Linked DNA regions of Homo sapiens. The protein of the gene in region 3 interacts with the protein of the main gene of each other region in a pairwise test. Each region holds a gene or a part of one and is shown on either strand. Other genes may lie near its edges. The genes, in order: ARMC5, BPIFA1, COL8A1 and CCN3.

The links.
Region 1: the proteins of COL8A1 (region 3) and ARMC5 interact in binary tests that used the Homo sapiens proteins (3 or more experiments, as listed by UniProt).
Region 2: the proteins of COL8A1 (region 3) and BPIFA1 interact in binary tests that used the Homo sapiens proteins (3 or more experiments, as listed by UniProt).
Region 4: the proteins of COL8A1 (region 3) and CCN3 interact in binary tests that used the Homo sapiens proteins (3 or more experiments, as listed by UniProt).

What each region holds. Positions count from the first base shown.
Region 1 is NC_000016.10:31,454,898-31,462,509, forward strand, and holds the start of ARMC5 (armadillo repeat-containing protein 5), read left to right. Parts: upstream 1-4,627; coding exon 4,628-5,102; intron 5,103-7,024; coding exon 7,025-7,132; intron 7,133-7,233; coding exon 7,234-7,612.
Region 2 is NC_000020.11:33,232,054-33,239,007, forward strand, and holds the start of BPIFA1 (BPI fold-containing family A member 1 precursor), read left to right. Parts: upstream 1-3,942; 5' UTR 3,943-3,997; intron 3,998-5,643; 5' UTR 5,644-5,658; coding exon 5,659-5,818; intron 5,819-6,001; coding exon 6,002-6,161; intron 6,162-6,954.
Region 3 is NC_000003.12:99,633,998-99,641,610, forward strand, and holds the start of COL8A1 (collagen alpha-1(VIII) chain precursor), read left to right. Parts: upstream 1-4,596; 5' UTR 4,597-4,667; exon of another isoform or gene 4,668-4,683; intron 4,684-7,613. UniProt on the Homo sapiens protein: Macromolecular component of the subendothelium. Major component of the Descemet's membrane (basement membrane) of corneal endothelial cells. Also a component of the endothelia of blood vessels.
Region 4 is NC_000008.11:119,411,827-119,419,455, forward strand, and holds the start of CCN3 (CCN family member 3 precursor), read left to right. Parts: upstream 1-4,619; 5' UTR 4,620-4,706; coding exon 4,707-4,790; intron 4,791-4,917; coding exon 4,918-5,143; intron 5,144-6,231; coding exon 6,232-6,483; intron 6,484-7,304; coding exon 7,305-7,519; intron 7,520-7,629. UniProt on the Homo sapiens protein: Immediate-early protein playing a role in various cellular processes including proliferation, adhesion, migration, differentiation and survival. Acts by binding to integrins or membrane receptors such as NOTCH1.

The DNA.
Region 1 (7,612 bases), on a different chromosome or scaffold from region 3:
AAATAAATGGGCATGGTAGCTCACACCTGTAATTCCAGCATTTTGGGAGGCTGAGGCAGGGGGATTGCTTGAGCCTGGAAGTTTCAGAGACCAGCCTGGGCAACAAAATGGAACTCAAAAAGTAAAAATCTTGGCTTGTTTGAAAACACACACACACACACACACACACACACACACACACACACACAGCCAAAACAAATGTGTTTCCCATCTCGGGCTTGGGCACTGGGTCACAAGCTTGGACAGTGAAGCTACTTCTAAACCCAGCACAGGGTACAGTGGATGCAGGACATGGGATAAACTCCTGTTAGATTAAGCCCGTCCCTCTGCTTCTGAGGTCTGGCCTGCCTCGCTGTTCTGGTCAGAACCTGTTTTATGCAATTGGAGAGGAGAGGGGTCCCAGGAGTATTAGCCCTAATGTGAGAAATTAGATTACAGGTCTCTGAAAGGGATTCTGCAAACCAATCCTCCTTCCAAGCCTACTCTACCCATACCTAATATTCTTAAGCAGTTATGAATTTTGCAGAGGTCTACAACACTTGACACTCACTCAAGGCAACTGTGAGGAAACTGAGGCTTAAAGGCCACTAGTAAGCAGTGTAAAAAGGACCTGATCATGACAATTATTCTTTGAGTGCCTACCATGCATGTGCTGGGCTCAGGCCCTTCACTCAAACCCTGGCTCGTACTCTCTGAAGGGTCCTGGGTGAGGAAGATGTCAAGAACCCCATACCTCATCACTGACTCCCTGCCGGGGGCATGTGCTGCTCCCAGCCTGAGATGAGTGCTGTTCATTACACGTCATCTCCATGAAGCCTCCCGCATTTGCTCCAGGAAAGGCCCGTTCGCCACCCTGGCGTCATTCACTCTGTGTTGCTGATATTGAGTCTGTTTCCTTCAAGGGGAAACAGGCTACCCAAGGACTGGGGCTGCTGCCTTCATTTCTGTAACCTCCGGGGGGAGCTCTTGTGTGAGCCGCATGATGGATGCTTGCTAACAGCTCTAGGCAGGAGGCAGAGGGAAACTGAGGTCTGCCGAGTCATCCCTGGCCCAGGTACTTCATGCGTGTGCAGTGTTGCTGTGGAATCTTTACCACAACCTCCCATCCCTGTTTTACAGATGAAGAAACAGGCTCAGAAGAGGCAGACGTGTCTAAGATCACACAAGCCTTGACACCATGAGCTAGAAGCTGAGGGTGAGGTCACTTCACATCCCTTCCCTTTAGGTTCTACTCTATGTGGGTAGCGTCCTCGACACAGAAAGCCTGATAAAAGATGGCAAAATTACCGGGCGTGGTGGCTCATGCCTGTAATCCTAGCACTTTGGGGGGCTGAGGCGGATGGATCACTTGAGGTCAGGAGTTCGAGACCAGCCTGACCAACTAGAGGCTGGTCTTTAGTAGAGGGTTGGTGAAACCCTCTACTAAAAATACAAACACTGGCTGGCATCGTGGCGCAAGCCTGTGGTCCCAGCTACTCGGGAGGCTGAGGCAGGAGAATCACTTTAACCCAGGAGGCGGAGGTTGCAGTGAGCTGAGATCGTGCCACTGCACTCCAGCCTGGGCAACAGAGTGAGACTCCGTCTCAAAAAAAAAAAAAAAAAAAAAAAAAAAAGATGGTAAAATTTGGGGGCAGCAGACCAGATGCCTGGACTGATGGTAGGACTGTCCCACAAGGGGTGGACATTAGGTCCTTGAAACAGACAACTCCCTCCCCCAGCAGGGAAGGGAAGGGCCTCAGAGCTTGGTGTCTACTCTGAGCACAGGCAGGTGCTTTGGGAAGCCTACCCCTGGCTCTCACATACACAAAGTTATGCCAGTAGAAATATATGTTTGGGCAATGCCCAGGCAAAAGGGCCATGTTCAGTCCCCAATGTCCAGGCACAAAGGACTCTTCGCCACTCTTCCCTCTCTTGACAGACTGGCAGAAAAGGAGCCTGGGGAACTTGGAAGGGAAGGGGATAAGGCAGGGGAAGGGGCAGATGACAAACCCTGGGCCTCTTGCCCCTGCCCAGAAATGCAACAAAGCAACCCCTGAACTCAACATACAGGTCTGTTCTGGGGCCCCCACCACCCTAGCATCATCCATAATGATAGTTCTCACGTGCTGAGAGGACTTTTGAAGGGCTCACACACCCAGGGCTCACACAATGGTCCCAAGTTCAAATTCTCTGGCCCATCTGCCAGAACACAGGATCCCTCATGGTTCCCTCTGGAGGTTAGGAATGCCCCGCCTGCGCGCTGCCATGGAACTCCTCACAGGGGCTTGCCTGATTTCTGGTCCCATTCCTCTGGGAAGAGGTAGCTGTTGTTCTAGGTGTGATTAACCCCATCACTCCCTAGGCCTGTGAAGGGACTGTGTCAGCTACTGCCAGATCTGCAGGCAGCTGGGTCCACGCTGGATAGCTCCCGCCATTCCAAAACTCTCCCTTCAGCTGGTCGACGTTCTGTCTTTGTAACTTCAAAGAACAAACCTAAGCCCTCTCAGCTGACTGGGCTCTTTGAAGGCAGTGATCACAGATCTAGTGTTCTGATTCTTCCAGACTGGGGCTCCTTTGTTAAAAACAATTTTTAAATTTGTTATTTTTTTGAGACACTCTCTGTCGCCCAGGCTGGAGTGCAGTGGCACGATCTTCGCTCACTGCAGCCTCCGCCTCCCGGGGTTCAAGTGAGTCTCCTGCCTCAGCCTCCCGAGTAGCTGGGATTACAGGCGAGAGCCAACACGCCTAGCATTTTTTTTTTAGTAGAGACAGGGTTTCAATATGTTGGCCAGGCTGGTCTCGAACTCCTGGCCTCCAGTGATCCGCTAACCTTGGCCTCCCAAAGTGCTGGGATTACAGGCATGAGCCACCATGCCCAGCCCAGACTGGGGTTCCTTGACTTAGCAAAGGGTTGGGCAAAAAGATGTGGAGACCCCCTCGCCCCAACCGAATCCCATCATTAGCTCTAAAATCAACAGCCCTAAGGGAGCAGAAGGGGGTCTGCTTAGAGATCCTGGTTCCTTCCATTTCCTTGAAGTCCGAACCAAAGTCAGAGCTGAAGTTTCAGCTAAAATTGAAGCCAGGGCTATTTGCAGAGGCTGCCGCCCTAGTGCGTCCGCTGGTGCTGGCCCAGGTTGGAGCTTTGCGCTAGGGCCCTGCCACACTGCAGGCAGACGCAGGGGTGCTGCTGTGGGCCGCCTAGTGGATGGGCAGGTGGGAGCTGTGGCCGAAGGTCTGGCCACACTCACCACCAAGCATCAGGTTTCCGGACTTTGTGACTGTGCTGGTGCCGCAGCAGATTCCAACTGTGCACAAAACTCTTACTACAAACAAGGCACTTAGAGGCCTTCTCACCCATGTGGAGCGCAGGTGCTGCAACAGGGTGGAGCCAAGGCTGAGACTCTTGCCGCAGTCCCCTCAGCGGTAAGGCTTTTAGCGGTGTGAGCGCGCTGGTGCTGGATCAGGTTGGAGCTGACGCTGAAAGTCTTACCACACTAGGCACAGGCATAGGGCCGAAGCGATGGTCACACTCGGGGCAGGAGTACGGCTTTTCACCGGTGTGTACCCAGTGGTGCTTAACCAGATCAGAGCCACATCGGAAGCTTCTGCCATAACCCGGACAACGGTAAGGCTTGTCACCAGAGGGGCTGCCTTGGTGGTGAATGAAGCCGGGGAGGCAGGCTGTGGTCAGTCCACATTTCCGGCACTCGCAGGTTTTGGGGCTTGTAGACGGTTGCTCTTGGCAAAGGCTTCTTCCTCCCCAGGGCTAGAGCCTGACCATTTTCCGGGCGGGCAGCTGCCCCGACCACACCAGGAAGGGCTGCTCAGGCGGAGCCACCTCGCAATCCAGGGGTGACCTGGGGGCTCCCCGGGACGCGAATGTCCCGCTCCCCCGCCGCCCCGCCCCGTCCGGATTCTCCCTCGCCTCTTCTGGCGCGGCCGACTGCGCTGCGAGTGAAGAACTCCCCGTTTCCTAGATGCCAGCTCCTGAGCTCACGAGCACGTCCAGAGCGGAGGACACTCGGGACACCGGGGTCCAGCTCCGGAAACGGAAAATTCCACAAGCCCGTCACTCTAGGAAGCGGCAGCGAACGTTCTCGGTAGGTTTAACCCTCTTCTTCCTCTGACCGAGCGAGGGCTCCCCGTCTGCGGCGCGGTCAGGACCCCGCACTTTCGGCCCGGCTCGGGGTTCTCGGAGTCCGTCCCAAGGCCGGGCCGCACCACCGCTGGGGGGCAGCGAAGCGAGCCTAGAGGAGAAAAGGCGGTCCCCGCCGAGTGCACGCCGGGGGCGGGGCACGGCACGAAGGCTCCGTGGTCGGACTTCTGGGCTGTTCGGAGGCCCTGGCCCACCTGGAGGGCCCTGGAAGAGTTTCCAGCGCTTCCCGAGGTAGGCGTGAGAAGCTCGACGCGGACCACATCTCCCTCATGCACCGCCCGCACGTCCCAGGATGCGCTGCGATTAAGGTACTGCCGCGCCTCGTGTGCAAGGACAGACTTCCGGGGTCGAGAACTACAACTTCCGACTTGCATCACTGCGGTGGCGCTAAACAGCGTCAGCGAGGCGGTGCCCGACGATTTCCCTGTCTTCCAGTTCCGCTCCCTGGGATCAGCGGCGAGAAGCGGGGCGGAGTCTGAGGCCCGAGCCAAGATGGCGGCTGCGAAGCCAACCCTCACGGACTCGCTCTCGTTCTGCCTCGCGCAGCTCGCGGCGGCGGCCGGGGAGGCTCTGGGTGGGGAAAAGGACCCAGCGACCAACGAGACACCCCTGAGCCGCGCGCTCCTAGCCCTCCGCACGCGCCACATCAAGGCAGCGGGGGGAATCGAGCGCTTCCGGGCACGCGGCGGGCTCCGCCCCCTACTCGCGCTGCTACGGCGAGCGGCTGCAGCGGGTTCCGCCCCGTCCCAGGCAGGCCCCGGCTCCGCCCCCTCGTCGGCCGCGTCGGGAGCTTCTAGCCCCGCCCCCGCGTCGGGCCCCGCCCCCTCCGCTGTGTCGTCGTCTAGTCCTACGCCGCCAGTGCGCCTGCGCAAGACGCTGGACTTGGCGCTCAGCATCCTAGCCGATTGCTGTACGGAAGGGGCGTGCCGGACCGAAGTGCGCAGACTCGGAGGCATACTCCCTTTGGGTAAGTGCTCCGCCCCCGTTTCCTAGAAAGATTAGGTTTGCAACTCCCTTGCTCTCTAGACCCGGGCAGTCTGGAGTTCTTTGTGTCCTATCCCGGAATAACGTGCTTTGTGATGGCGCATCGCTCCTGTTTCTCAATCTGTTGTGCCCCGTGACGTCACTGCACTCTCTATAGATGAGAGAGAGCCCTCCCAGACCAGATAATTGTAGCCATTATCTAGGAATTGGTTGTTGAGGACTTCTTTCGAAGCTGGACTAGCGGAGGCCAAAGAGTTATTTGGTGATTTTTTCAGATGATTCTTACCGTCCAGTTATGATGTTCATAGCAGACATTCAGTGCCCAACTATGTGTCCGGCCCTGTGCAAGGTTCTGAAGCCCCACTGATGAGCTGGAAGGTGTAGTGGTTCAGAAAGGGAGATCTGCAAAAGTCACCTAACCCCTCCGAGGCTAGGATTCCTTGTAAAATGGGGCAATAATAGCTACCTAAAAAAATCAGAGTGGGGAGAAAACGAAGTACAAATATGGCACGAATATGCAAATATTCTAAGCATGATACGTATTTCAAGTTATTAAAAACTAGCATAAGCTGGGTGCAGTGGTACGCGCCTGTAGTTCCAGCTATTTGGGAGGCTGAGGCGGGAGGATCCCTTGAGCCTAGGAGGTTGAGGCTGCAGTGAACAATGACTGCCTGTGAATAGCCACTGCATTCCAGCCTGGGCAACGTAACAAGACCTCGTATCTTAGAAAACCAAACAAATCAGTAGTCGCTTAGGAAGCAGGAAAAAATAAATAAAAATAATTAAAACCAGCACAGTAAGAACAAATCCTAGCAAAACATAAGCTTTTCTGTTTACCAGCTAAATTGGTGCCTCCTAGTGGCAATGTGTGAAAGCAGTTTACATGTCACTACCTGCCTTCCACGAAATTATGCTAGTTTTGATGACATCTTAACTTTTCGGATAAAGGGAAGCATTAATATATTTAAAATTTACATAAAATGTATCTGGACCATATATGTTTGACAAGAGCTTTGGTTATTAAATAACCCCCATCATTCAGCTACTATTTTTCATCTTAAATATCTTCTGAATTTATCTGCTTCTCTCTCTTCCTACTTCCATTGTGTGCCCAGAGACTGGTATCTCTGTGCTGTGTGATGCCAGTAGCTGGGTTGGTTCAAGCTATTGTCTTTTCATGCTTGGACTATTATGACAGCCTTTTGACTCCCCCCTTCCTATTCTTTCCCCATAATGCATTCTCCCTATGGATGTCAGATTGTATCGTGTCACTCCCCTTCATAAAACCCTTGTGTGGCCCCCAGTGCCTTCACATTCAAGTCCTGACCCCTTGGCCTGACATTTGAAGCCTTTCACAGACACTGTATCTTACCTCTGGGCCTTTGGAAAGGCTGCTTCCAAACCTGAAATGCCTTCTCACACCCCCATCCACCGTGCTTCTGGCAAATACCTTCCTGTGTACCCCTCCAGACCCAGCCCGAGTGTTAGCCTCTTTCTTTTTATTTTTTTGAGATGGAGTCTTGCTCTGTCATCCAGGCTGGAGTGCAGTGACACGATCTCAGCTTACTGCAACCTCTGCCTCCTGGGTTCAAGCAATTCTCCTGCCACAGCCTCCCGGGTAGCTGGGATTACAGGCGTGTACCACCATGCCCAGATAATTTTTGTATTTTTAGTAGAGATGGGGTTTGGCCCCGTTGGCCAGGCTGGTCTTGAACTCCTGACCTCAAGTGACCCACCCACCTTGGTCCCCCAAAGTGCTAGGATTACAGGCTTGAGCCACGGTGCCCTGCCGACCATTAGCCTCTTCTGAAAGCCTTCCAGGCCCTCTCAGGCCACATTCTCCAGGTTATTGATGTGAGAGACAGTAAGGGGTAGAACCCTCACAAGCCCAAACTGTCGTTGCAGTGACCATTCTTCAGTGCATGAAGACAGACAGCATCCAGAACCGAACGGCCCGTGCCCTGGGGAACTTAGCCATGGAACCTGAGAGCTGTGGGGACATCCACTGTGCTGGTAAGAGGCTGTGAGGTTGGGGTCTGCTAGGGCTTGGGGCAGAAGAAAGGCTTGAGTGTCTGTCCTTGTTCACCCTCTGTGCTCCCCTTTCCTGCCCTCAGGTGCTGTTCCCCTGCTTGTGGAGAGCCTGACAGCCTGCCAGGACTCGCAGTGCCTACAGAGCGTGGTGCGTGCCCTCCGTAACCTGGCAGACTCACCCCAGCACCGCCTGGCCTTGGCACAGCAGGGAGCAGTGCGTCCGCTGGCCGAGCTCCTGGCCACTGCCCCAGATGCTGCACTGACCTTAGCCCTCGTCCGTGCCCTCCTGGAACTCAGCCGAGGCTGCTCCCGGGCCTGTGCTGAGCAGCTAAGTCTGGGTGGGGGATTGGGCCCACTCGTCAGCCTGGCTTCCCACCCCAAGCGGGCAGTACGCGAGGGAACCATTCTGATCCTCGCCAACCTGTGTGCCCAGGGCCTGATTCGGCCTGCACTGGGCAATGC
Region 2 (6,954 bases), on a different chromosome or scaffold from region 3:
CTCTGGAGCTTCCAAGGCCATCTGAAGACCCTCTGCAACTCAGTCCCCACGCTGACCTTTCTCCTGGGGAGGAGATCCTGCATCCCATTCTCACATTCTGGAGAACAGACCTTGCATAGGTCAGAGCCCTTTGAAAAATCAAACCAATTCTGCCCTTTAGAAATGGATCTTTTTTTTTTTTTTTTTTTTGAGACAGAGCCTCACTCTGTCACCCAGACTGGAATGCAGCGGCATGATCTTGGCTCACTGCAACCTCCGCCTCCCAGGCTCAAGCAGTTCTCCTGCCTCAGCCTACCAAGTAGCTGGGTTTACAGGTGCGCACCACTAATGCCCAGCTAATTTTTGTATTTTTAGTAGAGATGGGATTTCACCATGTTGGCCAGGCTGGTCTTGAACTCCCGACCTCAAATGATCCACCTGCCTGGGCCTCCCAAAGTGCTGAGATTACAGATGTGAGCCACCACACCCGGCCAGAAATGGATCTCTTGATTGACAAAACAACCTGAGCAAAGGCTCCCAAACACAATTGCAACCTGAGAAGCAGGAAGGAAAGGCACCACCTACAGTTTCTGAGAAACACATGGAGAGGGTATTGACATCACCAGAGTGGGGAAAACCTCTTGAAATGTTCGTGGTGTGTCCTTCCACTTGTTTCCTGGTGCCCTGAGACCTTTCCCCTGTTCAGGGCAGGGAGCATGCAGTCCCTGTGGCCACAAGGAAGGGCAGTTTCAACAGAAGCAGAAACAAGGCTCTTGACTTTCAAGAGCCTGGGTTTTTGATAAAGTGGTAGTGACAGAGAACAAACAGGTGGTTGCCAGCAGATGAAGGCAGGGTGTGGCTGTAAAGGGACCCATGAGAGTGCCTTTGGGGGGATGGAACTGTTCTTTACCCTGATTATGATGGTGGCTGACTATACATGTGGTAAGACTCAAAGGACCATACCACTAAAAGAAGTCAATTTTACTGTAAGTTTTTTTGTTTTTATAGTCTTGGCTTTTGACTTGTTAAACTCAGGGCATAGGAGAGTCTGAGAACAGCATACACACAATGAAGTTGAAGCAAATCTTCCTGCCCACAAAACTAGAAAATGCCCTATGTTGGGTTGGTGAAGTGTGAGGGTCCAGGAGAACTGGAAGGAGCATAGTTCTGGTGGGTTCTGATGGTGCCTCCGTCCCTTGCTGCTCCCAGGCAGACCTGAGCATGGGATGAAGGGAACAGAATCCCAGGCACATGTATGGGATCCAGGGACAGAGGGCGTCTGTGTCCACACTCCCTCCCAGAGCCAGAAGAGGGCATGAGACCCCAGGGAGAGAAGGGTAAAGGGAGGGTCTAGGTGGATCCAGGCAGGAGGGCTTGGGCAGCCCCTCACAGTCCTGTATCAGGCCCAAGGAACTGGCGAACAGCAGAACAATTCTGTGTCTTACAAACGAGTTGAAAGTAAATGCTAAATCCAAAGGGACCTTTCACCAGGAGGGAAGTACAGTGTCTCTGCAATCTAGGGGCAGATGGCACATGGCTGTCTCCTATATTGCCAGCCAAAAATAGGGACAGGCAGCCTCCTTGGTACAAACAAAGCCCCTAGCACAGACATGAAACCCCAGGGGGAAATTGGGACATTTCTGTTCCTGAGCAAAATGGCATTTGAAATGGTAAAGTATAGATAAATCAGAAAGATGTGTGGACGCCTGAGTTTATGAACTGTGATTCATACCAGCTCCCCAGACATCATCTCCCCATAGCCCTGTGAGGCAGATTTTATGCTCCCCATTTTACAGGTGAGGAAACTGAATGAAGTTCAGGGAACTGGACTGACTTGCCCAGGGTCGTAGGATTTGAACCAGGGCTGTTTGAGCCCAAATTCACCCACTTTCTGCTGCAATACAGACACAGCCTCCCGGCCTCAAACCAGAGGGTGTAAGCTTTCATTAACTGGCTGCACAAACTCTACTAATTCCTTGCCTTATCTGCCTCAGTTTCCCCACAAGGATAGTAGCAACCTGACCCAACCCACAAGAGTTATACGATGGGACCACTGTGAGGATGATTGCCATGTACAAGATGTGGGCAGAGTCCAGCAAGTACCTTGAATGGATAATTAAGTTCAAAGCCATGGCCCCAAACCCTTGGGGGCACCACCCAGACTCTGGAGAGCAGTGGAGCAGGCCAGTGAAGGCCTAGTGTGAGGGAGGCAGTGTGGCCCACTGATTAGCAGGGACTCAGACAGACACAGAGGGTGGCAGGGTCAATTGACTCCAACACTCACTCGCTGTGTGTCCCCAGGAAGCAGTCACCCTTTCTGATCCTCAGCCTCCTCATCCAATGTATGAGAGACAACAATACCAACCACTCCTGAAGAAGATGAGGTTCAAATATGGAGAGCACCTGGCATGCAGTCAGTGCTTAATAAAAGCACATTTATTCCTTCTCTCTCCACTTTTGCTTATAAGGTGTTAGGTTTTGCAGGGTAAGAGCTGCGCTCACTGGTCCAGGACCTTGGCCTTCCTGTGTCTTCACTTTTTCATCTGCTGAACAGACTCCAAGGGCCCCAGTGGTGGGGATAAATAAATGCCTGATTACTCCATTTAGGGAAAGGTAGAAGAAAGGGTAGGATAGAGACCAGGATGCCAAAGGATCCCTCAGGCCTGGGAACCTGGAAAGACTTTTCCAGGACCTAAAAGAGAAGCGGCGGGGCACTGTGGCTCACGCCTGTAATCCCAGCACTTTGGGAGGCTGAGATAGGTGGATCACCTGAGGTCAGGAGTTCGAGGACAGCCTGGCCAACATGGTGAAACCCCATCTCTACTAAAAATACAAAAACTTTGCCAGGCATGGTGGCGCTCGCCTGTAGTCCCAGCTGCTCAGGAGGCTGAGGCAGGAGAATCACTTGAACCCGGGAGGTGGAGGTTGTCATGAGCTGAGATCACACCACTGCACTCTAGCCTGGGCGACAGAGTAAGACTGTCTCAAAAAATAAAATAAAATAAAAATTAAGTGAAAATTTAAAAAATAAAAAGGGACGCATGAAAGTGTAAAGTTCACAGGTGGGGAAATCAAAATGGCCAGCAAGTGTTGGGAGGCACCTTCATCTCTCAGTGCAGTGATTCGGGGAAAGGACCTGAATGTGGATGTCTCACCCCAGGCAAGCACTGCATCTCTGGACAACTTGCCTCACACTCAGCCTCAGTTTCCCCCTTATAGAATAGGAGTACAGGGTTGTGAGGATTTTGTGAGATGCTGCCTGTGAACACCATGGCAGGCCAGGCATACAGCAGGAGCTCGGCCAGTGTCTGCTGTTGGCGTTGTTTTTGTTGTTTTCATTCTCCAGTCAGTTGCATTCTAACTCTGCTGCATCCTCTCTGGGTCTTTCAGCACTTGTCCCCACTGGATCTCAGTTTCCTCCTCTATAAAAGAGGAGGAGTCACCTCTCCCTCTCAGGGTTCTTGTGAGGACAGAGAGCTCCTGACGTGCAATAGGGGCTCTGAAAACAGGAGACCCTTGCCCTGGAATGGAGACGCACCCCAGATGTAGGATGCAGTGTGACTCTTTTGACATTTTAGGAGAAAGAATCCTCCAACTGGAGCAAAAAAATTAGAGCAGGAGAGGAAAGGGGCCAAGAGATGAGACTGAGGTCCCTTCCTGGGCTCTGTCTGGCTGCTCCTTTCAATGCTCCAAGCTACCTTGGGAGCGTGGGTCCCCAACCTTGGCTCCGCTCAGGAAACCATAAAGTCTTGAGTAACATCCCATCTCAGGTTTTTCTCTGTTTATCTTGTTGACCAAATAGCTTAACTGTCTCACCTGCTAATGTGATTGGCAATTATTTACTTTGGAGAGCCCTGAAAGACACTGTCAGATTGCAGAATTCTCAATTATCTAGAAACCCATCACCCAACACATGCTTCCTCGTCCCCATACTATAAAAGAGGCTGACTCCTCGGCAGAAGTGAGTGGGGGAGAGAGAGGAGACCAGGACAGCTGCTGAGACCTCTAAGAAGTCCAGGTAAGAGCCATCCATTCTGTGGCCCCTCTGCTACCCTTAACGGCAGGGATCTCAGGCTCCTGCCCTGTGGGGCAGTGAGTGATCTTGATCACTCACTGGGGGCTGTGCAAGAGAAACAGACCTGGCCAATGTCAGGGATGTGGGGATGGCCATTTGCTCTGCTGTCCTAAGAGACCAGTAACATTGATATAGAAATGGGCACTATTAATGCCGTAAATGAAAGCCTCTAAGGCATAAGTTTTAGCTTGAGGTTACCAATGTGGATACAGATGATCCAAAAACCTCCTAAAATTCTTCACCCAATTTTATACATTTTGATGCATTTTTTCTGAGACTAGGATCTTTAGCTTCCATTGGATTCATAAAGGGTCTGTTGCCCAAAAGAGATTCAGAGGCTGTGGTCAAAGTTACCTCCCTAAGAAGGGCACAACTGGCTCTTTGGACCAAAGACCTTTCATTTCCAGCCTTCCACCACAAGGATGGAGCTTTAGCTGAGTCAGCCAATAGATGGAATTTTGCACAAAGTCACCAGTTGTCTCCAAATTGTAGGTACTAGTGCTGGCTCTGGACAACTCTGCTGGCTGCCAAATAGACCTGTGAGAGGTCTGCAAGCCAAACCTCAGGGGTTGACCGGAATTCCATCCAGGGCAGCTTGAAGGAGAAGAGAAAGGTGTCAAAATGATAGAATGCATGTTTGTGTGTTGGGTGAGGGGAGGGTTGGGAGACCTGCCTTCAACCACAGCTCTGCCATCAATTTATTGTATGACCTTGGGAAAGTCACTACCCCTCTTTGGTCTCCTGGTTCTTCTCATGCAATGAAGACTTTGATGGCCCCAGGAATTCCCCAACAAAGGTCTACATGAGATGGTGGCTGTGGCCATGCGACCCCTGTATTGTGTGACTTTCAAGGGCATCCACCAACCATCATGGCCTGAGCTCAGGCCAAAGGACTGAACAGGGATGATCTAAAACAGTTCAATTCTTCAGCACTTGCACGTTTAACCCTTCTCATTTGCTTTGTCTGAAGAGCAGCAATGATTCAAACCATTGAAGCAAGCCCGATTGGAGAATAAATCTGATGGTTACTTAATTTAACCGAGGGTTCACCTGGCTCTAGCTTCTAATCCTCTGTCCACCGTGTACTTGTGACCTTGGGGAAAGTTACCCACACTCGGTAGTACACAAGTGGGTTTCAAGAAGGGATGGGAGTATATTTGAAACTCCCAACTGCAAACTCACTTGACCTCTGTGAGCCTTGGTTTCTCCTACTGGAAAATCAGACAAGTGAACTGTGGGCAAGATGGAGTGAGGTGAGGCTGGGATTCTTGGCAAGAAGGAAAAAAACCCTCTTCTTTGGAATGTGGTGGAGTGGGGCTGTCTCCTTTTTAGGCCCCTGATCAGTGGTCCTCACCTGTGCAATGCAGGTAACAGGTGCCCATGTCTTAGGGTTGTGATGAAGATGAAATTGTGTAAAGTGGTCAGCCTGTTGCCTGGCAAAGAGAAATTGTTCAGCAGTATTAGCTATTACTAGTGACCCCCTGGTGTTCTGGGGAGCAAACAACCCCACCCCCCAGGTGTCAGGGCAGGTGGTGGATAAATTCCTCTCTGATACCCATGCCATGTTGGACTTGTCATTCTGGCCACAGATACTAAGAGCAAAGATGTTTCAAACTGGGGGCCTCATTGTCTTCTACGGGCTGTTAGCCCAGACCATGGCCCAGTTTGGAGGCCTGCCCGTGCCCCTGGACCAGACCCTGCCCTTGAATGTGAATCCAGCCCTGCCCTTGAGTCCCACAGGTCTTGCAGGAAGCTTGACAAATGGTGAGTTTTCAGGGGTGTATGTGTGCATGTGTGTGTGTGTGTGTGTGTGTGTGTGTGTGTGTGTGTGTGTGTGTGTGTGTCCAACCCTGCAAAGTGGGGAGGGACAGGGCTGGATGGGGGAGGGGGCCTGAGGATCTGGAATTGTCAGATCTGACCCCCAGAGACCCTTACACCCATTTCCAGCCCTCAGCAATGGCCTGCTGTCTGGGGGCCTGTTGGGCATTCTGGAAAACCTTCCGCTCCTGGACATCCTGAAGCCTGGAGGAGGTACTTCTGGTGGCCTCCTTGGGGGACTGCTTGGAAAAGTGACGTCAGTGATTCCTGGCCTGAACAACATCATTGAGTGAGTTGTCCTAAAATAGAGCTTTGATCTCCACCAGGGAACCCCAGGTGAAGATCTGCCAGCCCCAGGCAGTGACCCTGAAGCAGCGACCCTGAAGCAGCGAGGGAGCGGCCTGAAGATGGAGCCAGGACTCAGTTCTGAGACCCATCTCCAGTTTGGCAGGGACACCCGTCCTCCCCAAACCAGCAATGCCCTCAGTTCTAGGCATGTCCTGAGGCCCCAGCATCATCTATAATCCTCACCACAACCCTTTGAGGTCGATTTAATAATCTCCAGTTTGCAAATGGGAAAACCAAAGCACAGAGGTGCCTGTGTTCACGCTGCTAGAGTGATGCCAAGTGAGTAAGGCTCTCACTCTACTATCCTAACTCCAAAGCCAAGGCTCTTCCCACTACACTGTGGTCATTTTGTTCTCTGCACCTGTGAAATCCCTTAGAACACAGACGGCCTTTGATGTTAGCGAGAGTATAACCTGCCCACCTTGATGATATCAATGTGATGAAAAACAGTGTGATGTCCATGGAAAGGTCTAACGTGGAGTTTCCCATGAGACACCCAAGAGCTCGCAAAGCAAAAAGCAAGAATGGAAGCTTGATGCCAGTGAGCCGGCAGAGCCTGGTTCCTGGATAGGACTGGATCAAAGCCATTTCCAAAATCCTACCCACCCAGGGTCTCACTCCCTGACTTGGAGACAGACAGACTTCTTGACTTTGATTTTCAAATGTACTTGTTGGATGACCTGGGACAGGACACCCTGTCTCTCTGTGCTTGGTTTCTCCATCTGTAAAATATA
Region 3 (7,613 bases):
ACTGCTCTTTACAAAGCCAGCAGGAGCTGTGAGGCAGTCATCTGTGGGGTCACCTGCATCAGTCAGCTCTACCCTATGGGCCAACAGGAAAACAGTGACTCACAAAATCCAACGGTCCTTTGGAATGCGTAAGAGGTGTGCCTTTCTTCTGTGCTATAAAGCGTTTTCCATTTTTGTAAATAAAACCCCATTTTAAATGTCCTAGGAGAGCTGGCAATTTTAAGTGCCTTACGGACTACGATCATATTTGGTCATGCTTAGCATGGGCTAAGACTGATTGACTGATGAGTCATTTGATAGATGGAGAGCAAATTTCTGTACACCGTATTTCAAATTGTCAGATTTACTTCAAGTGAGCACACCTGTCTGTGACTTTTGCTTAGGCCAAAGCCACATTCATTTGCATTTTAAAGCTCTAAGGAGTGAAAGGAAGAATCAGAGCTTGAAATCTGGCATGGGCAGCACAAACAAATAGTTAAAAATTAACTATTTGAGAACATAGATGTGAATGTGCAGTTTTTAAAGCCAGATCACACTGTTTTCCAATCCAGAAATCCTTGAAAACTCAAGGATCTCATGGATCAGGTATATTATTTAGGGATAATGTAAAGCTACAGCAGGTGAGAAAGACACTGGGCTCCTCGGACACACAGAGAAGACATCACTCTTTATGTGAATCCCATATGTCACCCTGGCCACACCGTGAGAGGGTCCTGCCTTCCTACCCCCTTCCTACAACCATACAGGACACTCCAGGGAAAACTGGGCTAGAACCACTACTGTTTCTGCCACCTTGCTCAGGCCTCCAAGTCTGCAGGATGCAGACACTCTGTTTTCTCTATTTCTAAGTATGCTATCAGTCTGAGATGCACAGGCAAGCATTTATCTGCAAAGCCACAATAAAGACCCTATATTCAAAGAAAAATGAAATCTTGAAAATATGCCACTTTCACCATGCCATTCTATTGCTCAAAAGTCTTCATTGATTCTGCATTGCCTACAGAATATAGTTTATACTTCAGACTACTGAGGTGACCTCATCCCTCCTCATCCCTCCTCTCCATTTCTCAGCCTCATTGTTCTACCACATGGACCTTTCTATACAGTCATGCTGGCCAATTCACCACCTTCTGAATATTCCTGTGATTTCCCTGGTTGCACACATATCCTCCCTTGCCTGGAATGTACTACTGTCCATCACTCGTCTATTCAAATGCTACTTTCCATGGCTCAGCTCAAATGCCACCTCCTCCCTGAAGTCTCTTTACTAAAATTCAACTATCAGGATTTCATGCTTTTCTTCCTCTGTGAGAAAAGATGTCATATTTTCCTCTGCTTTGAATACCTCACATTGTCTGATATCCATTCTTAATAAATATTTGTTAACTGATTAATTCTAAATAAACTCCAAAAAAGGGTTACATTTGCAAAGCTCTCAAAAGTAAGGTAATGATCTGTAGCTGTTATAGCCACACAATGGAAACTTCAGAGCATCTAGTATGTTGTCATTGGATTCCTTTCCTTCCACAGAAGACCAAACTAGGTCATTTCAAACCTCAGTCACCTTCAGAGAGATTCTAGGAAGGGCACACTAAGAGTCAGCAAAGAGACGACATTCCTGGATTCCTGACTTGTTGTCCAGATCTGCTACTGAATCAGATTCAGGTAAGTGTGAATGGGAGAAATGAACTAATTATTAGTGCCATCCAAAAAAATGAAAGCAGTGCTTTTGTTATGTTGGCTGGTTTGAAAGGAAGAAAGAATTAAAAATAAGAAGAGAAATTCAGCCTACAGCCATCAATTGTCTTTTCTTCAAATGTGCTTTTCTTGCCTTTCTGGTATTTTTTTTTTTTCATACGTATGTGATGGAACTGGAATGTTTGAGAAGAATTAACTTAGGATAGAAAAGATGATTTGTTGTAATCTGATAAGGGTATTTACTAACATACTTTATCACCCAGCTTCTCCTCTAAAAGTCCCATTTTGTTTCCCCAGAACACATTTCTTTGCTAAATTAAAAAGTTCCAAAAGTGGTATTGTGCTTGTAAAATCACATCTGATTTCAGCGTTATGTCCAAGAATAGATAATGCAGTCCTATTTCTAGGTCTAGTAACAAGTGTTACTCGTTTGACAGACTTCACTCAGTAGATTTGGCCACATCCTCAAAAGACATACTATTTGGGAAGAGGAAAACTGAGTTATGGAGGGTAAGAAGAGAGTAAAACCAAACAGCAAACGGGCAGAAAGTTGATGTGAAAGTTTTAGCTTTCTAAGCATTCATTAAACTAACAAATGCTGACCATTCTCTATTGTCAGTCCTCAATATTGCTGTTTATTCAATTAGCGAGACTATACATATTTATTGAGCACTTATTTTTTACTAGCTAGTAAGCCACTAGTTATAACTTTGTGCAGCCAAAAAATTATTGAATATAATTTGAATAGGGAACATAGAGATAAAAAATTATAAAAAGGCGAATAATCAATAATGCAAAACATCGTGAGTAAATTTGAAAACTCTGGTGTCAAATTTGTGTTTACGATAAAAATTTTAAATTTTTTATTTCATATATGATTGTTCTTGCCTCATATCCCGGGCACATGGGAGTTTATTTCGTTGACTCCCAGACGTAACCAATTGAGAATAAGCTTAGTTACAAAGGAAGTAATTGAGGCTTTGAGCTCTTGAAGCTAACAGATGGAAATACGTATGTAAAAACCTAAGTGCTGTGTAAACTCGGCACATATGGACGTAGGTATTATTATTATCCAAATGGCACTACTGGGTATTTTCTTAATAGATTCTTTTAAAATGCTTTTTTATAGTTGTGGGCCTTTTTTAGACGAATAGTTCTTAAGAAGAGGAGGGGATTTTGTCCCTCAGCGACATTTGGCTAAATCTAGAGACATTTTTTATTTTCACAGCTGGGTGGCGAGTGCGGAGTGGGTACTGCTACTGGCATCTGGTGGGTAGAGGCCACGGACACTGCTTAACATTCTACAGTGCACAGGAGAGGTCCCTACAACAGAGAAATATTCTCCCGAAAGTTTCAGTAGTGCTAAGTTTGAGTAATTCTGCTCTTCACCATCAAGTTTCCTTCTCTTGGAGCCTGCTACCAGCCAATGACATCAGGATCTAACCTGAGACGAACCTAGGTGTTCTATACGGCAGCCTGGTGTACTGAAGAGTGCCTAAGGTTTGCAAGCTCGCTAGCTGTGGCTCCCCCTCTCGCTAGCTTGAGCTAGTTATTTAAACCCTTAGAGATGCCTTTCTTTAAATTAAAAAAAAAATAAATAAATCTGCACAATATGAATCATACCTACCTCATAAGGTTGCGGTGAACACTGAATGAAGTACATATATACATATTCAGTACAAGTTCGTTCCTTTATTATTTCCAGCCTACCCATCCCTCCCCCCTCCCATTCCCGCCTTTTCCCCCTCCCGGTACTGTATCTCCCACCCCAAGTCTCAGGTTCTCTTTTAAAATGCTTTAATTCCTTTGGTGGCAAAAATCAGGCTTGGGCTAGGAAGTGAGTCACCACTCAGCAGCGAAAGGAGCTTGTTTTTCTTTCTCTGAATGCATTTCTTAGTAATTTCAGACTGATCCTTTAGCCACTTGTTGGTTGAATCCTCTCTTAATGTTTAAGACACACTGAGAAAGAACTGTGGCACCAAGACGTTTTCCGATTGTTAGGAATGAGAGTGTTTTAAATACCGAAAATAACCAGAGGGCAGAGAGCTCTGAAATCCTACGTTACATAAGCAGATGCTGGAAGACCCAGGCTGGTTCTGAGGTTCCTGTCTCCACAAGCAAGTCCACGCGAATCCTCCCCGTTGCTGGATTTACTTTAATGCTGCCGAAGTCTCAAAAGGGGCCTCTGGATGCTCAGAGGACAGGCAGCGCAGGAACTTCCTTGTCAAATAAGCCTTGCCTGGAGGGAGAGGGATGGGGCGATTTTCACCCGCGGGCGGTGGGACGGGGCTGAGGGCTGGGGGCTGCCTGGCTCCAGGCCATGTCAGTGCCTCCAGCTCCAGGTCCGGGTCCACCCTGAACTTTGGCTCTGCTGCCCGGACGCCCAGCTTCACCTCCCTTGCCTCGCTTAGAAACCCTTCAGTTCTCCCGGACCGCTATGTAGCTTTTCAAATTCCCAAATTCACAGAAAACACCTTCAAAAGTCACAATCACCCACAACTCCCTCTGCCAAAAAATGTCATGCAAAAACGGAAAATACTCCGATTCCCCTTTCCTCCCAGACACTCTCTCTCTCTCTGTCTCTGCTATTCATTTTCTCCCCCACCTTTCCCCATCTGTGGTCAAGATCCCTTTCACTATTTCTAGTTCCCTCTCTTTTTTCCCTTCTCCCTCTCTCTCCCTTTTCCACTCCTTCCTCCGTTGTGACCGCGCTCCCCCTCCCCCCGCCCCGTCGTCTCTCCTCCGCCTTGCGGGCTCCAGTCTCTGCCCGCCCCTCCCCAGAGAAGAGTGTCCAGCTCCTCCAGAGGCTGCCCGCCCGCCGCTCCTTCCCTGCCCACCTACTATGAGGAGCAGCTCCTCCCACCTGCCCATAAAAGCCAAGTGCATGTTACCAGCAGCGGATCACAGCCCTTCCCCGATCCTCTCCGTGGGAGCCAGCGAGCCTCTCTCCCTGATCTTACGTGCTCAAGGTAAGACAGCACTTCTGCAGGCAGCTCACCTACCAGGGGTTGCTATGGGGGAATAAGTCACCCTCTGGCCAACGCGTTTGCTGTTTGGTTAGAGCTGATTCTTACGGATGCGCGATCCGCTGCTCCTTTAACTAGCAACTGGTTTGAAAACAAACTTCTGTTTGAATGGTAAAATAAAAGCTCCTTCAGGGAAGAAACAGCAGCATAAATATTGCGAAACCTTTCTCTTTTTAAATCACTTTTTCTCCTGTTGCTGACTGTTGCTTAGGTTAAAATGTATCTGTTTGGGGTGTTGTACTGACGTTTTTCACTGTACATATTTCACACATCAGTGGGGGCAAGGAAAACGTTGTCCCATTGTCAAAAATGTACTTTAAAAGAACACAGTTAACTTCCTAAAAATAGCACAGTCAAAAGGTCTGCTAACAATTTTGTGATGTTTTCCAAACCCCCAAGACAGCTTCTGTGAGTCCTTTAAAAAAATATCTTTCCAGGTTTTAGCGCTTGGAAAAAAATGATGTGAACGGGTGCCCTTTGCACGGGGACAGTAAGTAATCAGGTGGCTGGTAGATAGGAAGGAACAAATCCAAATTCACAAGCCAGGGTAGAATGTGCTCTCTCACCAGGCTATCTTTTCACGACATCCTAAAATGAGAATTACGATGGAACTAAGAAAGTGTATAAAAGAACTTCATGAATTTCTGTACACACACCTAAACATAAAGTGTTTCAATATGTTTCACAGTAAGAGAATAATACAGGCCAGATTATACAATACTTCTGTGCACACCAGATGGTTGTAAAGAAAGATCAGCGAGAAAGGCTTTGGAAGTTTTAATCCTTCTTTCCACCTTTTTTCCCCCGCATTTAGTAAATCACAACCTACCTGACTGGCATCCAATTATCAGAGATATTCAGTGTTTAAGCTACCCTCTTTAAAAGAAAATGATCTCTTCTTATTCCTAAGGTAGAATAAATGTGCACCTGTGAAAGGAAAAACATACTCCACAGCCACTTCTGTAAAACCAGACACTTGGTCCATGAAGTTTGCCATCAAATTCTGTGGGTTGTGTGGGATGAAACTCTCTCAAGTGGGAGAAAAACCCTCTTCAAATGTTTCCTCTGGGGAATTGCTCAAGACCACTTAGAGAAGGCAAACCAAAAGTACCAGTCAGGAAACCAAACCACTCTTTTAGCCCTTAAGGTTCTTAAAGTAAGAAGAGAAATGTTTCACTTTTTTATTTTTTTGTTTGTTTATATTATCTCATGTGGAAAGAAAAAACTCACCGAAGCTGTATGAAATTCTCCCCTATTAAAGAAACAAGACTCATTAGAAATTTAACTTAGGTCTTCCAAACCATTTCTCCTTAGCTTTTGCATATCAAAAGTAATAAAAATATTTAAAAGTTCTGCTTGAGATGGAGAGGATTCAATGCTGTTACTCAAATGCAAGAGTTATATATAAAGCTTCTGTCACGTTAAATTTTTCTTCATTGGAAAAAAATATTGCAAGAAGTGCAGTTTCCTTTAAGCAAATTATATAAAATTACTATTGGCCAAGATAGTATGTGACCTGAGCATATTAACATACCTTTTATCTCATGCCACAATGCAGACTGCTTGCTTTATATCTGATGCACATAGGTAATCAACCATGACAAGAGTACAGGTATGGGACAAGGCCAGACCAAGTATGTGGCACATTCAAGTTAATTCTTCTTTTATGGTAGTGCCTGACTCACACCCATTATCACAAGGATGAAAATACGCTGCTTCATTCACCAGATCCCCTTGAGGGAAGTTATCTTTTCTTGGGGTGGAGGGGGAAATGCTCCCAGTTTAAATGAGCTTCCAGTTATTCCTAAGTTTGGGGATAAAAGTATTCTCCAAGGGTTTACTTCTGCTTTCTCTGGCAATTAATCCACCGGACCAGCTATGGACCGTTAAACAGTAACTGCCTTCCCTATGTCCCATCAAGTTCAAGCCCCTAAATAACTGAGTGAGATCATCTTAGATTGCTCATGATCTAAGTTTCCCAGGAGCAAAGCTATCCTTTCTCCATAGGGTACATACCAAGCAAGATGACACTGCTCTTCTTAAGCTTTTAGAAAAATCAGTGTCGAAGTTTCATGTAGTCGCCCCCAAATCTCCCCTTCTGCATGGGATGTGGATACTTCACGTGAGTCTCCTCTTTTTGCCATTATATAGCTGCCTCTTGATCAAGTCCATGACTATACCCAACCAATGCCATTGAGGCAGACTTGGGAGGACTTCTTAATGTTTCTCAGAAAAGATAAGATGAGAAGCTGCCGCTTTCACTAGAGACACAAGAAGGGAGCTCTACTGATTTTGAGGGCTTGCTGATCCTACAGAAATGTGCATTTTAGATGTTCTACTACTGTCAAAATTATAAAATGATATCCTTTTCATGATCAGAAAACATATGCCACTTTATTCCTATTTATGAAATAAAAATCAAGGAGAAGAGGATTGGGGTGAAAAGGGACTTGAAAGAGAAGCTGGAGGAATCACAGAAGTGCCCTAGGAGAAAAGCAAGATTAGGAGCTCTGTTACGAAACGCAACTTCTCCCAACCCTCATTTATGTGAACATGAGGGGATGGGGAAGAGCAAAAATCCATGTCTGCTCTTGTCTTTTTATTTGTTTGTTGTTTTTTAATCAATGAGAGTATAAGATCCATCTCTACTATGCCCTTCTTCTTAGCCCTCCTTCTTTAGCAGAAAAGAACAGCTTGGTTCTAATGATGAAAATGATTTCAGGTTTGCCCCATATTTAAAAACCCACAGTAATTTGCTAGTCATAATTCTAAAAGCTATACTATGAGTTAAAATAAAAAACTCCTTAAAACATGTTTTTAACTAACAGATGGGTCACGTCAACAAAACCAACCCTAAGTCTCCTGAAAAGTGTAATGTTGAGTGCTTAT
Region 4 (7,629 bases), on a different chromosome or scaffold from region 3:
TATTCCATCCTTTTAGTGCCAAGCAAGACCCAGAGAAGTTTCATGTCACAGGCTGATGGGTGGTGGCTGATAGGACCAATTTAGCTGCTGCTGAAGAGCAAACAGCCTCCAGTTTGTTTCTTATCTCATCTTATGCAGAGCAATGAAAAGTGGCAAAACTTAAAGTGGAGTTTGCAGTATCTCAAAAGGTCCAAGAACTGACCACTTGCCTGACCCTGAGGTGGATGTTGGGGATGTTACTGTAAATACGACATGCTCTGTGTCCTCAAGGACTCCCAGGCAGGACAGGGAGGCAGTCACCAAAACAGACAAGTACAGTCACATCTTACATAACAATATTTTGGTCACCTACGGACGGCATGTACAATGGTGGTCCCATAAGACTGTAATGGAGCTGAAAAATTCCTATAGCCTAGTGACATAGTAGCTGTCATGACATTGTAGCACACTCATGTGTCTATGGTAATGCTAGTGTAAGCAAACTTACTGCACTTTCAGGCATATAAAAGTATAGCACATATAATTATGTATAGTCCATGTTTGATGATGATAATAAGTGACTATGTCACTGGTTTATGTATTTACTATACTTTTCATCATTATTTTAGAGCATACTTCTACTCATAAAAAAAAGTTAACTATAAAACAGTCTCAGGCAGATCCTTCAGAAAGTATTTCAGAAGAAGACATTGTTATCTGAGGAGATGACAGCTCCATGTGTGTTATTACCCCTGACAACCTTCCAGTGGGACAGGATGTGGAGTGGAAGACAGTGACACTGATGATCCTGACCTTGTGTAGACCTAGGCTAATATGTATGTTTGTGTGTTATTTTTCACAAAAAAAAAAAAAATAAAAATATTAAAACTAGAAAAAAGCTTATAGAGGCCAGGCACAGTGGCTCATGCCTGTAATCCCAGCACTTTGGGAGGCCGAGGCAGGTGGATCACGAGGTGAAGAGATTGAGACCACCCTGGCCAATATGGTGAAACACTGTCTCTACTAAAAATACAAAAAATTAGCTGGGCGTGGTTGTGTGTGCCTATAGTCCCAGCTACTTGGGAGGCTGAGGCAGGAGAATTGCTTGAACCAGGGAGGCAGAGGTTGCAGTGAGCCAAGATTGCACCACTGTACTCCAGCCTGGTGACAGAGAGGGACTCCATCTCAAAAAAAAAAAAAAAAAAAAAAAGCCTGTAGAATAAGGATATAAAGAAAATATTTTTGTACATCTGTACAATGTATCTGTGTTTTAAGGTAGGTGTTATTACAAAAGGGTCGAAAAGTTAAAAAAATTAAAAGTTTATACAGTAAAAAAGTTACAGTAAGCTAAAGTTAATTTATCATTGAAAAAGGAAATTTTTGAATAAATTTAGCTTAGCCTAAGTGTAGTGTTTATAAAGGCTATAGTAGTGTGCAGTTATGTCCAAGGCCTTAACATTCACCCACCACTGACTCACTGACACCCACTGCAAGCTCCATTCACGGTAAGTGCCCTACACAGGTGGACAATTTTTTATCTTTTATACCATATTTTTACTGCACCTTTTCTAAGTTTAGATATGTTTAAATCACAAATACTTACCATTGTATTACAGTTGCCTACAGTATTCAGTGCAGTATATTCTGTACTGTTTGTACGTTTGTAGCCTAGGAGTAATAGACTATATCATACAGCCTAGGTGTGTAGTAGGCTACACCATCCGCATCTGTGTAACTACACTCTATGATGTTCACACAACAATGAAATCACCCAAGGACACATTTCTCCAACAATATCCCCATCATTAAATGGTGTGACTATAATGATTATCCAGTGAGTTATGAGATAAAAGAGATAAGCTCGGCATCCCAGGCCTGCACTGCGGATAACATCTATCCCGGCATGAAGGATTTCAGAGACTATGTCCTGGAGGCAGTGAAGCATGACATGACATGATTATCATCAGATGGTATCACTTTCAATTTACAATTGTTTTAAGATGAAGATCCTCATCCTAGAGCATTTATAGCAGATGATGGAGTGGATGTGTATTGTTTTGCTCACCAAGCTTGCTTTCTTTTTAAGGAACAGTCCTTTCTTCCCAAGAGAACTGCTCTTTCTCTCCATTCCAACCATGAGGTTCTAACTAATCCCCATACTTCACCTTCCTTGTCCCCATTGATTAGTCCAGGGTGAACCCATCCAATTTAATTCCTGGAACTTTTAAAGTTGGGCCTAAGAGACAGGGACATTCCTTCTGTGGTGATAAGGTCATAAAGTAAGAAGATTGGAAGGATCATTTTTCCCTTATGTGGAAGTAATCCTGTTGGCCCTCCTCTCTCTAGATCCCAATTGCCTCTGAGGACTCCCTGTACCATTCCTGTGCTGTCACTATGTGAAACATCACAGCATCCTTCCAGTAAAGTCCTCTTTTCGCAAAAACTAGTTCAAGTTTGGTTTCCATCTCTTGCAATCAAAACTGAATAGCAATTTTACACTTGCAGTGACTTCTTGACATGTTAATCCTTGTCTTAAAGTTACATTTTCCCTGTCACCACTCCCACCCCACTCTTTCCAAGAAGAGCTAGCCCAATCTCCATGTTGCCAATTTCTCCTTGTTCTATCTGAGTCTATTCATGCTTGGAACACTTGGCCGATGCTCTTTGCCTCCCCATTAGCAGTGCTTCTAGTTGCTCCATTTCAAAGTACATTAAAATGCTGTCTACCAAGAGCCACCACCAGAGAATCCTACTGAGTGGGTCAAGAGTGGGGCTCAGGAATCTGTATTTTTAACAAAATACATGCTGGTTGATTCGATCTGCAGCCAGATGGAGGCATCATTAGGCCAAATGGCTTACAAAACCTATCAGTTTTTTTGTTTTTTGTTTTATCTTTTTCTTAAACTTTTATTTCAAGTTCAGGGGTAAATGTGCAGGTTTGTTTACACAGGTAAATGTGTGTCATGGACATTTGTTGTGCAGATTATTTCATCGCCCAGGTATTAAGCCTGGTACCCATTAGTTATTTTTCCCGATCTTCTCCCTGCTCCCACCCTCCACCCTCCAAAGCCTATCAATTTGAAGAGTAGGTAAATGTCCTACTCAAGAGTGCAAATGAACTGTTTCATCTCTAGTTAAGTTTGAGTACTACTCAGTCTCATTTACCTCAAAGAAAGCAGAACTATTAGAGGCTTGGAAGTGTGTCATAGTGGTTTCAGGCTGCCGAGAGAATTATCTAGAAGGGGCTTGAGGTGACCTCATCATCTGCGGGTGTTGCAGAGGCAGACCTGGCCCCTTCCGCAAGCTGCCTTTGATTTCCTTCATGCTGGGGACAGATGAGGTAGAGGCCATTTGTTTCTTTTTAAACTCTAGAATTACATCACAGGCCTGTATAATTTTCCTTAAAAAGTGTTTTTTGTTTTTTTCCAAAGCAACTATCCTCAAAAGAGCTGGGCATAGTTCTCCTAGGGGCAGCACCAGTGTTGAAGTGTGGGGGGAAACTGTTCTAAATCCTTCAAACAATGTCACCTTTGGAGCAGTAAAACTGCTCCCTTTTTCCCATGAGAGATGACAAGCATGCCCCAGCAATCATTTCTTGAAAGCGGATGCCCGGTGAGAGAAGGATTTGATTTGCTGAAGGGTCAGCCAAGTTAAGCCAGTTTCTTCCTCATTTCTTCCCTGGCTGGAGGTTTTGATGGTGGTGATGGTGGTTGAACTGAACCCACTTAGAAAACTGTCAAAGGTTTCTGGACTCTCAGGTGTGCCGTCTCACATTTGGTCTGCTACAGCAGGTGCTTCAAGGCTTTCTTCTGCCAAGATTTCTTTGTTTTATTTTATGATGTTTTCTTTATGTGTGTGTGTGTGTGTGTGTGTGTGTGTGTGTGTGTGTGTTTTACTTTTATTTCTAACAAACCTGTGGACCTTGGGGTTTAAGACTGAGTGAAGCTAGAAGGATTAGAGTCAAAAGAATTTTGCCATTTGGCCAATAGCATTCCCCACCTCCTGACATATCGATTTTTTTTCTAGATTCCCTTCCCCCTGCCACTCCCCTCCCCCCAACACACACACACTTTTCTCTTTCTCCTCTTTCTCTCCTTTCCTCCCTTGCTTCTCTCCCCTCCCTCTCAACACATTCAATGAGTGCCCTAAACGGTGACAAACTTGCATGTGCTTCCCTCATGACTAAACCCCTGGGCCTTCTGCCAATCCCCTGCAGATGGCCCCAAACTGCAGGCATCCCGTAAGGGGACCCCACGCTTGCAGCCCTGGTTGGAACGGTCAGGGTGGAGGAGGATGGTGGGGAGTGGTGGTGTCTTCGTCCTGGGAGAAGGCGAAGCAACTTCCAGGAGGAAACGGGCGTTTCCTTCCCACGCGCTCGAGCGAGCCCTGGGTCCTGGCCTCGGAACTCCACCCAGCCCCTCCCCACCCTCTGGGAAAAGCCAGTCGCCACACACAGGCACACGCAGGCCCCGGCGCCGCGCCCTAAGGAGAGCAGCACCCACAGCCAATTGCCATGGCAACCCCGGGGTTCGTTCCACTTCCCCACCCAGCCGATCTCCCCCCTCCTCCCTGCACTGCAGCCAACCGGCTTGTGCGCGTCCCAGGAGCGCGCTATAAAACCTGTGCTGGGCGTGATCGGCAAGCACCGGACCAGGGGGAAGGCGAGCAGTGCCAATCTACAGCGAAGAAAGTCTCGTTTGGTAAAAGCGAGAGGGGAAAGCCTGAGCATGCAGAGTGTGCAGAGCACGAGCTTTTGTCTCCGAAAGCAGTGCCTTTGCCTGACCTTCCTGCTTCTCCATCTCCTGGGACAGGTAAGTGGCACACCCTTAAGATGCCCCCAAGTTACTTTGCCCGCCTTGGTGGCCCCCATTTGGTCACCGGGCTCACTGCGTCTTCTGTCCCAGCTGAGTGGTTTCTCCTTGTCTCGCCTGCCTTCAGGTCGCTGCGACTCAGCGCTGCCCTCCCCAGTGCCCGGGCCGGTGCCCTGCGACGCCGCCGACCTGCGCCCCCGGGGTGCGCGCGGTGCTGGACGGCTGCTCATGCTGTCTGGTGTGTGCCCGCCAGCGTGGCGAGAGCTGCTCAGATCTGGAGCCATGCGACGAGAGCAGTGGCCTCTACTGTGATCGCAGCGCGGACCCCAGCAACCAGACTGGCATCTGCACGGGTAATCCTGCTCCCTCTGCTGTTTGACCTCTTCTCCTGCAGCTAAGTGAAGCTGCTTCCTCCCTTCTCTTTTGTATTCCCCTTCCCAGAGGGCGATAAGCAAATAATAATAATGCAATAAATGACATGTATAGAGCACTTACTGTGTGTCAGGCATGGTTTGGGGAGCACTTGGGGCTTTGGGGAGCGCCAGAGCCAGAAAGGAAACCTGCCCTGGGGGTGAAAGGCATTCCTCACTTGGCTTCCTAGACAAGAATCTAAGCAAAGGGGGAGCCACGCAGAGTTAAGGGCCAGTGAAGTCATTTCCTTCGGACACTTCTAGGGGGCCACTTGGGGCTGATGGAAGCTCGGGTTTACTCACACGCTCACAGTTTCCCAAACTGCAGTTGGGGAAAACCCAGCAGGTTTGTTTTCACACCTGTAATTGTCCCATTTGAACCAAAGCAGCTGCTAGTCTCCTGGGATAACTATGTAACCCTTTTCTGGCTGCAAGTAAAATAAAATGCAGGCAACTAGCCAATCCAGGCTTCTAAAACGTAATCAGTCGGGGATCAATTTTTCACATGATACAACATTGTAGTTGAAGATTGTCCCTTCCTTTCTGGACAGGAGGGCTTTTACTTTTTTCTCTAAGCTACTGATGATTTTATTATGCTTGAGTGTCAAGGAATCTTAATGCCCTTCCCAATTTGATCAGCTAACCTGTTGGAAAACATAAAGTACACTTTTTCTCTTTTTAAGTCTAAGCTGCTGGAGTAGGAAACTCTAAGGAGGTTCTCGCAAAATGACTGAACATTGGGAAAAATGGCCAGGGGACCTTGGGGACATCACTTCACAGTTGCACACCTCTTTCCTCATCCATAAAATGAGTGGCAAGACTAGATGATCTTGAAGGTTTCTTCTTGCTCTGAGAGGCCTCCATGAGGACATCACTCTACAGTAGATACATGAGAAACCAGATCGCCTGAACTAGAAAAGGACTTGGGTTTTGGAACATGCCCTCCAAATCTTACATAGCTTCTTCACTGTATTGTGTTCTTGTTTTTCCTCTTCCTCTTTGCTTTTCACTTTGCTTCCCCAATATTCTAGCGGTAGAGGGAGATAACTGTGTGTTCGATGGGGTCATCTACCGCAGTGGAGAGAAATTTCAGCCAAGCTGCAAATTCCAGTGCACCTGCAGAGATGGGCAGATTGGCTGTGTGCCCCGCTGTCAGCTGGATGTGCTACTGCCTGAGCCTAACTGCCCAGCTCCAAGAAAAGTTGAGGTGCCTGGAGAGTGCTGTGAAAAGTGGATCTGTGGCCCAGATGAGGAGGATTCACTGGGAGGCCTTACCCTTGCAGGTGAGAAACTCAATATACCTAGGGCTGGTCATAGTAGAGGGTAAATACAAACATGAAGAATTTGCAATCTCTTGGATTTGAAAAGAGAAACTGGCCTCAGTTTCTGGTCATTCAGTTGTGGGTTTCAGGTTGCCCACTGAGATCAAACACATTTGTAGACATTAGATCAAACATATTTATAAACTCAAACTAAGTTATAGAAGGTTGCTGCAATTTCTCCTGAAGAGGACCTCCCAAATTCACTCTTTTGTCTTATTTTTGTCTTATTGGATGACTACTACTTGTATTTTAATCCATCCCACTTGACCCTCATTAGCACTACAAAGACAAAATTTTAAATTCTCTTTCTTTTCTGGATTCTGTACACTACCTAGGCCGTCTCATGATTAACCTCCTTAAAGAAGGCTACTCATCCCTGCACAGGTGTCACTGAAAAGTGTCATCTTTCTAGATGCTGTAGTAAGGCTCAGATGGCACTTCAGGACCTTTTTTTATTCTTATTTTTGTTTTCTCTTATCAATGAAATAGTTTAAATAAAAAATCTCAAGAGACAATAGAGGATTATTTTAGAAGCCATTAATTAGCCAGATTACTTATATTAGCAGTATCCGGAATTGTATACTATTTCTGAGGGCAGACATTATCAGCCATGCCAGAAATAAATAAATAGATAAATAAATTCAGTTCTGTGTCCTGGGAGCATGGGTGTTTAGTAGGTACAGAGTCGAATGAGACCCAGTTTCTAATAATGGCTGAAAAGGACCACTTTCCAATCCTCACATTGTACCTAATATGGCTGTCTTTATTTATACATCCCATAGCTTACAGGCCAGAAGCCACCCTAGGAGTAGAAGTCTCTGACTCAAGTGTCAACTGCATTGAACAGACCACAGAGTGGACAGCATGCTCCAAGAGCTGTGGTATGGGGTTCTCCACCCGGGTCACCAATAGGAACCGTCAATGTGAGATGCTGAAACAGACTCGGCTCTGCATGGTGCGGCCCTGTGAACAAGAGCCAGAGCAGCCAACAGATAAGGTAGGAGCCTGGAGGAAACCTCCCATCCTGAAGGTAATGGCCTTGTGTCCTTGGAGCCTGGGCTTCAGAAAGTCACTGTGTCACTCTGTGACGGAGAGAGCAGCTATAGC